2 linked regions of the Homo sapiens genome follow. The protein of the gene in region 2 purifies or fractionates together with the protein of the main gene of each other region. This does not show direct contact. Each region holds a gene or a part of one and is shown on either strand. Other genes may lie near its edges. The genes, in order: SEPTIN2 and ITGA3.

Region 1 (4,020 bases), on a different chromosome or scaffold from region 2:
TCCAGTACTGACACTATTGATTCAAGTAATTTTTCTTGATTTTATACAAAGATGTTGTCAAGACTTTGAATTTTCCCAGAAAACCTCACAACTTTCCCTTGCAAATAACCAAGAGAAATACTCATTTAATATCTAAACAATAGTGCTTTATTGATAAAAGGTTAGTTTAAATGGATACAAAATTGCTGTGTAAAATAAGTGTTTTCAAAATACATTTCTATAGGTAGAGACTATGTCTTAGTAAAAGAGCAGTTATCTATTATCAAAAGTATCTATTTAGATTTGGGTAGTAAAACCAAAGGGGATCAGAAGTGTAGCAGTGTGGGTCCTCCCTCCCTGCATAGCTGTTACCAGGAGGCAGCGTGCCTGAAGTACTTTCACTCACATATGCGGGGCTTAGTCACTAGCAAACTTGTTTTTCTTTTTTACAGATTTTCCAGCAAAGTTATTAAATGTCAAACTCAAATAATGGACTCCGCATGGATGTACTCTGAAGTCATGGAACACCACTTCTTAGTTACCTTCACACAATAAGCCATAACATATAGCTTTTGGCTGTTCACAATTAAGCAACAGTGAAGGGCAAAGTTAGCAAGAACACCAGATTATTTTCTGTAGCACACCTTCATTAACTATTATTATTTAACTGCCTCATTTTATGTTTTTTCTAGCCCCCACAAAAATGAAAAAACCCTGTCTCATCCTCAGATTAAGCATTTTCTCCATCTCCCTACACAACCATTGTCTCCTTTCATCTGTCAATTTCTGGGGTTGAATTTCCCAACTTCAGTAGAAATGATAAAAAAGGCAACCGCTGGAGTGTACCATAAGGAGACACAAGAAGAAAGGTGACACTAAGGCTACAGTGCACAGAAAACAGACCAGGTGTGGCTTCGACTGTGCGGACCTGCCCACTAGCCTATGCTACAGATTTGAAATGTCTTTCACTTTGACATGACACACGGTTTATATTACACAAAATGAATGAAACGACAATGGCTAAAAATAAATGAGACAGCCTGCACACAAAAAGATGATGACTGCTACTTTCCTCCCATCAGAAAATTACTCAAAAAGGGAGTATTTAAAGGAAACTCAAATCAGGAGAACCCGGTAGGCATCAGAGGTTCAGGGCACCAAGGCCTTAGGGCGGGAACACTTTTCAACCCAAGCCAGGCTTCAGGGGCACGCCCACCAACAGACCCCAATTTCCACAGGGGAGGCAGATCTTCTATACCTACAGTGACAGAAAATACACTAAAGTGCAGTATAAAATATAAAAAGGTTTGATTCTGAATAGACCAACTGCTAATTTTCCTTAAAAAAATTTTTAATTTGGTTGAGTAAAAACCAAATTAGTTCACTGAATCTCATTTTGTAGGTAAGAGTCTTATTTGCAATACGAAAACTGGAGCTTATGACTGCTTTGATTTTCTCTGTAGCACAGGATAACCAGTATTAGTGGAGAACACTACAAAAGGTGGCTTGTGGTGAGTTCTTTGCATAGTGGTTTTAAAAACAACCTAGCATCAGAATTAAGAGACTTCTTTAAAACTCACCTCTAAAAAAGCTGTTTAAGTATAAAGATATATCTCATTAGGAAATTCTATTATGTTTTATTTGGTTAACAGATAAAATCGCAGACGAATCAACAGTATAGAATTATAGCAGCAAAACTGGTTTTAGGTGTTGTGTACAAACATAAAAGCAAGGAAGCAAAGATCTCCAAGTGGTGTGATGTGGTAAGCAGATGGCCTTGCACCAAGTCAGTGTATCTTTCTACATCACTAGGCACACACCTCTACCACTAAGGAACATTATGGTAAATCTGAATGTTCTAGATAAAAATCAGGAGTGCTCATCAATGGTTAGTCAGTTGTTAAGTCAGTTAAATCAAAGAAATTCAGTATTAAGTATACATGCCGATTCTTGGAAATCAATTCTAACATTAGTGGTTAGGGAGAAAGAAAAGGAAGACATTCACCTCACAAAACACAGAGTGTGACACAGCAATGAAATACATACGTTAAAAGTACTTCATACAAAAACACATCAAAGTCTTTTAAAAATTAAATTCTCAGGCACAGGTACTGTTAAAATGTGGATGGCACCCTCCCAAGGATTGAAAACACACAGCTGGATCATGCATCTGGAATGTTTTCTTTTTTATCCAGGAAAGTGTTTTCTAGAAAAAAGAAAACAAAACACACTTAAGTGGGAGTGAGGCAATGTCTGCTGCGTTAATTATTAACAGTTCTACTTTTCTCCTTAACAAAGGTCATAAACTGAGCAAAAGGCAGGGCTTACATGACCACAAAGTTAACTAAACCAAAAAGCCATTCATGAGGCTCCTGGAAACTGGAAATGCTGCAAAACTAGAAAGTATACAGAAATAAAATTTTATCGATCTAAAAGTAAAATTTTCATTCCATAAAGGTTGAAAATGAAGCTCAGAGAAAATAAGCAAACACCTGTCACTGCTTCCTGCTTCAAATGAGCTGCATCGCTGAGGCATCCTTGTCTCTTTCCACTGTACCCTCACTTCCCCAGTCACATGCCATTAACTGGTTATGCAGGACCAGCCTCTAGAGTCAGCAGGCCATCGTTTAAAAGTCATGGCACCATCAGCAAATACTTTTAAACTCTCGGAGCGGCAACAATTTCCTCATCAGTAAAGTGTGAACTAAGCACATACCCTCAGGACTATTCTAAGGTGTCACTGTGATGATGAAACTAAAGCAACCAACTTGGACTCAGTTGGGGGTGACATGGATGTTTTCCTTACAGTAACTTATTAAACTGTACATACGTATTTTTGTGCATTTTGTGTAAATACCGTATTTTACAATGAACACCTTTCCCACTAAGCTGCAAGAGCGTTTGGTGACTAAGGCTCCAGCAAGTCACTCTGGGTCCTTCCTCAGCCACCTGTCCACATGCTGTGGAGGCCTCAAGACTCCCTGCCTTCTGCCTAACCCACCCTGCCGTATGTCGTTGAAGGCTCAAGTCCCCTCCCTGTTTTCATGAACACACTCATGCTTCCAGAATGAGGTCCCTGAATTGTAGTAGAGACCTTCTACCAAATTCCCAGCGTTTCATCCTCAGATCTTGGCCAACTCAAACTCTCTTTCAAGCTCTAATCAGATCTCTTGTATGAGGTTTGTTTGCCTTTACCCCAGCTCCATGTGACCTACCCTCTTCTTTGGACTCTTAGGTCATTACTTAACTTTACCTTTCATGCTTTTCCTCTGGCAAGTGATGGGAGTGGCCACCTGGACAGTTCAGAGAGCCTGCCTGTCCATAAGATACATAAGATACAGGGGAGTGGGCATCTGCCTTTTCCTGGTCCTGAGTCTCTGGAGTCTGCAGATTCTTTTCAAGCAGGCAGACCAGCATACACCATGCCAGACAGATCTATTCACTAATGACCATCAGTCGGGACAAAGCTATCTGAGGAACAGGAGGTCAGCAGTCACCATCCAGGGAACCCTTATCTACCTCACATAATTCTTCTTCCTTGTGCCATCTCTACTTTTAATCTGTACAAGCTGTTTTAATAACACGTTTTTATTCCCTTTAAAGAGATGTTTTAACAATTAACAAATTTCCAATAATACAACTAATAAAAGTGCTTTAATACATAATTTCCTTCTAATGTTGGTATTTGCAAGCTTAGAAAATAACCTGCAAATGTACCCCAATAAAATAAAAGTTGAAATTATTTAAAAAAAAAAGAAGAGACAAAAATATGAAAAATCTTTACTAGAAAGTAGGTGGCAAAGTAGTGGCTTCTGTTTTTCAGGAGCAATCTCTCCTTGTTTAAGATTAGTGATGGAGTTACTTCAAAATGCAAAATATTAATGAGGCTTAAGGAGGAACCTGTCATATTTAAGCTGACACAATGTTAGTAACTGCCTGTCTTCCAGGCTAAGGGACAACAGGGCCTACCTCTGACTTCTTGATATGTGCACATCACCTTACACGTGGTGCCCGAGAGCCCCGCCATCGCCATCCCCGCCC
Region 2 (3,500 bases):
CTGCAGTGAGCTGAGATGGCACCACTATACTCCAGCCTGGTTGAGAGATGGAGTCTTTTTTTTTTTTTTTTTTTTTTGAGATGGAGTCTCGCTCTGTCACCCAGGCTGGAATGCAGTGGTGTGATCTTGGCTCACTGCAACCTCCACCTCCCAGGTTCAAGCGATTCTCCTGCCTCAGCCTCCCAAGTAACTGGGACAACAGACGGGCACCACTGCACCCGGCTTATTTTTTATATTTTTAGTAGAGACAGGGTTTCACCATATTGGCCAGGCTGGTCTCGAACTTCTGACCTCATGATCCACCGGCCTCGGCCTCCCAAAGTGCTGGGATTACAGGCGTGAACCACCACACCCAGCTGGGAGTCTTCTATCTTGAAAGAAAGAAGAAAGAAGAGAAAGAAAAGAAAAGAGAGAGAGAGAGAGAGAGAGACAGCCTCATTCTCTCTTTGCCTGCTGCCATCAGCGTAAGATGGGACTTGCTCCTCCTTGCCTTCCACCGTGATTGTGAGGCTTCCCCAGCCATGTGGAACTATCAAGGCAAGAGAAAAACCTGACATCAAAGCAACACATTCTAAGACTGAGTTTATGTGCCTATCTGGATACTGATAATTCATGTCTGAAGAAAGTATAAGTATTGCATTCTCTTGGTCACAGTAATTGTTTCAGAGAGGAGTACCTGAAATAGTCAGAGCTAATGAGTTGTAGTCAGATATCTACTGGGACTATAGAACTTGAAGGTCAAAGAAGATAAAGCTGAAGCTGTTGCATTCATCTTGGCACTACGAAAAGAATGCCTATCAAAGAATGGAGGCAACACGAAGAACACAGAGTTAAGTGCTTGAGATAAATCACATCCTGGTGGCATCATATGAGCACCAGGAGCAAGGCAAGCCTTAACCAGAACTCTTCTGTGTGTGAAGCAATAAAATCAAAATCCTTTTTGGAATATAACAACAACAACAAGAGACAGAGAGAGAAAAAAATGCGGGGGGAAATGTCTATCTGGGACCCAGAAATGGAGAACTCAGGGGCTGCCACTATAGAATGTGGGCAGGAGGTGACACATTTGATTAGCCCCCAGACCAGAGCTGGGTGAGCCGGGGTCAGCAGGGCTGGGCCTCTTCCGGCAGTCAGCCTCCCAGGAAGGAGCGCCAGCCAGCGCTGAGCTGCCTGGGGCCCTCTCTGCCCTTTCTCCTCCTTGCAGTTCCCTCGGCTCCCTCGGCTTGTTCCCACGAAGGCTGAGCACCCAGTGTAGGCATGCGGAGGAAGTGGATGAGTCAGAGAACTCAGGCCGTGCGGGGGTTTGGGAGAGCACAGGATACTCACCCCCTCCCCAGGAGTGCAGAGAGCGAGGGACACACAGCCACAGGAAGGGACATGTGTGCAGGCCCCAGCACACACGCGCCGTGGACCCCCCTGCTGCCCTCTTCTTTCCTCCCAGCTCTGGAGATGAGGGGAGAGCCGGGTAGAGGTGGAGGAGCCAACACTGAGCACCCACTTACCAGAACTCTGCCTGCAGGGCCCTGGCTGGCCACAGTCACTCCAAGCCACATGTCCTCAATAATGTGATGGCCAGGGTCATCTGTGGGCACCGGAAGGATCATGAATCAGAGCACCTCACCCATACTTCAGTGCCCAAAGTCTCCAGAGGGCAGGAGTGGGTCCCGCTTGGGCCCTCCACCCACAGGGCAGCCCTCCCAACTCCCCTTCTCCAGCTCGTCATTATTCTGAGCTCTACCAATCCCATCCAGCCCCACTCTCCTCTAGGGCACCCTCTTCCCAGCTGGACAAGAAGCGACTAGAAGCCGTGTGAACAAGCCTTCTATCTCCTCCAGGCCATTCTCTCTGCGGTACCCCCCTGCCAGACCTCTGACCCAGCACCCCTCCCCAGCCCCTTCCCCTCACTTTTCACTGTGATGTTCATCCGCTCACAGTCATCCTTGTGGGCAGTGAGTGGGCACAGGTACACAGCACCAGTCCGGTTGGTGTAGCCATCGGGCACAGCGAGCTCCCGGGGGGCACCAGCCAGGAGCCTGGGGATAGGGACGGAGGTGGGTCCGGGTTCAGACTCCCCAAGCCCCACTTGGAACAACTTGTTATTTATTCAACATACATTTACAGATTCTTGGTGCCAGGAGACCCCCAGCTCCTGCCCTCCAGAAGTGCCCAGTGTAGGGTAAGGCAGGCAAGGAAAAAAGACACTAGAAGGAAGTGCCCCGGGAGTGGGAAGCAGGGAGCACAGTAGCCCAGGCTCAGGGCTGAGGGGGCAGTGATGGAGGCCAGCAGAAGAGGTGACCTAATCTGAGTCTGAGGACAATCACCAGGGTTCTCCAGGTGAAGAAGGGGAGGAAGAGCACTTGGGCAAAGGCACACATGTGCAGGGCCAGGAAGCAAGAGCCAGCAGGGTGAATCAGAGACCTGCAAGGCCCTCAGCATAGCTGGAGTCCAGGAGCCTCTGGGGAGGCACACAAAGGCAGGCTGGGAAGGTCCTTAGGGGAACCACAGAGGGATTTTAGGCAGGGGCATGACATGGCCAGATCTCAGTTTTGGAAGGAATGCTTTGGCCTTTGAGATGAAGGTAGACCAGAAGAGAGCAAGATGAGGAATCCTGGCAGAGAGTTCAAATTCTGGGGGTTCAGAGGGGAGAACTTAGGGGACTGGGTTGTCAGAACGCTGGGTTTTTCCTCCTGAAGCCATGTGGAGACTCAGATCTTGGAGACCTGGGCCCCTAAGCGACCTGGGTGATGTCCAACATCCTTCCCCAGTTACCTTAAGACAGGCACACAGGTAGGGGTTGGGATAAGTACCTGACACTTTGGACAATGTGGCCCCAGAGCAGAGTTCCCAGTGGGTGGGCAGCAGGTGGGGAGGGAAAGGGCTCTTGCCTTGCTCCCAGCCTGCCCAGAATCCATCTTTGGGGATGCAGACAGCAAGTTCCTGCAAGGATGCTTAGGACCCTGGCAACCCGTCCCATACCAGAGGGGTGGCTGGAGCAGAAAGAGGCAGGGGTTGGCCCTGAAATGCCATCTTAGAGGACAAGCCTTGGGCCATCAGAAACCCCGGGGATCTTTGTTAAAAAGGTAGATTCCTCTGCCCACAACACACCATCTGGTGGAATCTGGTGCACCCCAGTTTGAGAACTCAGTTTTAGCAGATTTTCTCCCCACATCACCTCCCTGCAGCCTCTAAATGTTCTGCCAGGAGCCCCTGCTCAATCCTGATGGCCCTGGCCTTCTCGGGTGGCAGGCACCTCCCAGGTGCCCCACCATTTGGCCCCAGCAACTCTATCACTCTACAGCTCCCAGCTCAGAACTTGGGCTCTGGGCCTCCTGCCAGTCTGGAAGTGCCAAGCAACAGCCACGCCTGTAGCTTCTGCCTGGGACCTGTGAGTGTGGGCTACAGGGAGTGGGCTGGGCAGGGCAGGGCAGTGCAGGGCCTGGGCATGCCAGGGCCTGGGGTATCTCCACCCACTGGGAGTCAGGAATGTACTGCCTGCGGGT

Evidence for each region.
Region 1: the proteins of ITGA3 (region 2) and SEPTIN2 fractionate together in Homo sapiens (co-fractionation; one large-scale study listed by BioGRID). This does not show direct contact.

What each region holds. Positions count from the first base shown.
Region 1 is NC_000002.12:241,350,132-241,354,151, reverse strand, and holds the end of SEPTIN2 (septin-2), read right to left. Parts: coding exon 3,978-4,020; 3' UTR 3,949-3,977; intron 2,210-3,948; exon of another isoform or gene 2,186-2,209; 3' UTR 125-2,185; downstream 1-124.
Region 2 is NC_000017.11:50,062,610-50,066,109, reverse strand, and holds part of ITGA3 (integrin alpha-3 preproprotein), read right to left. Parts: intron 2,034-3,500; coding exon 1,906-2,033; intron 1,583-1,905; coding exon 1,503-1,582; intron 1-1,502.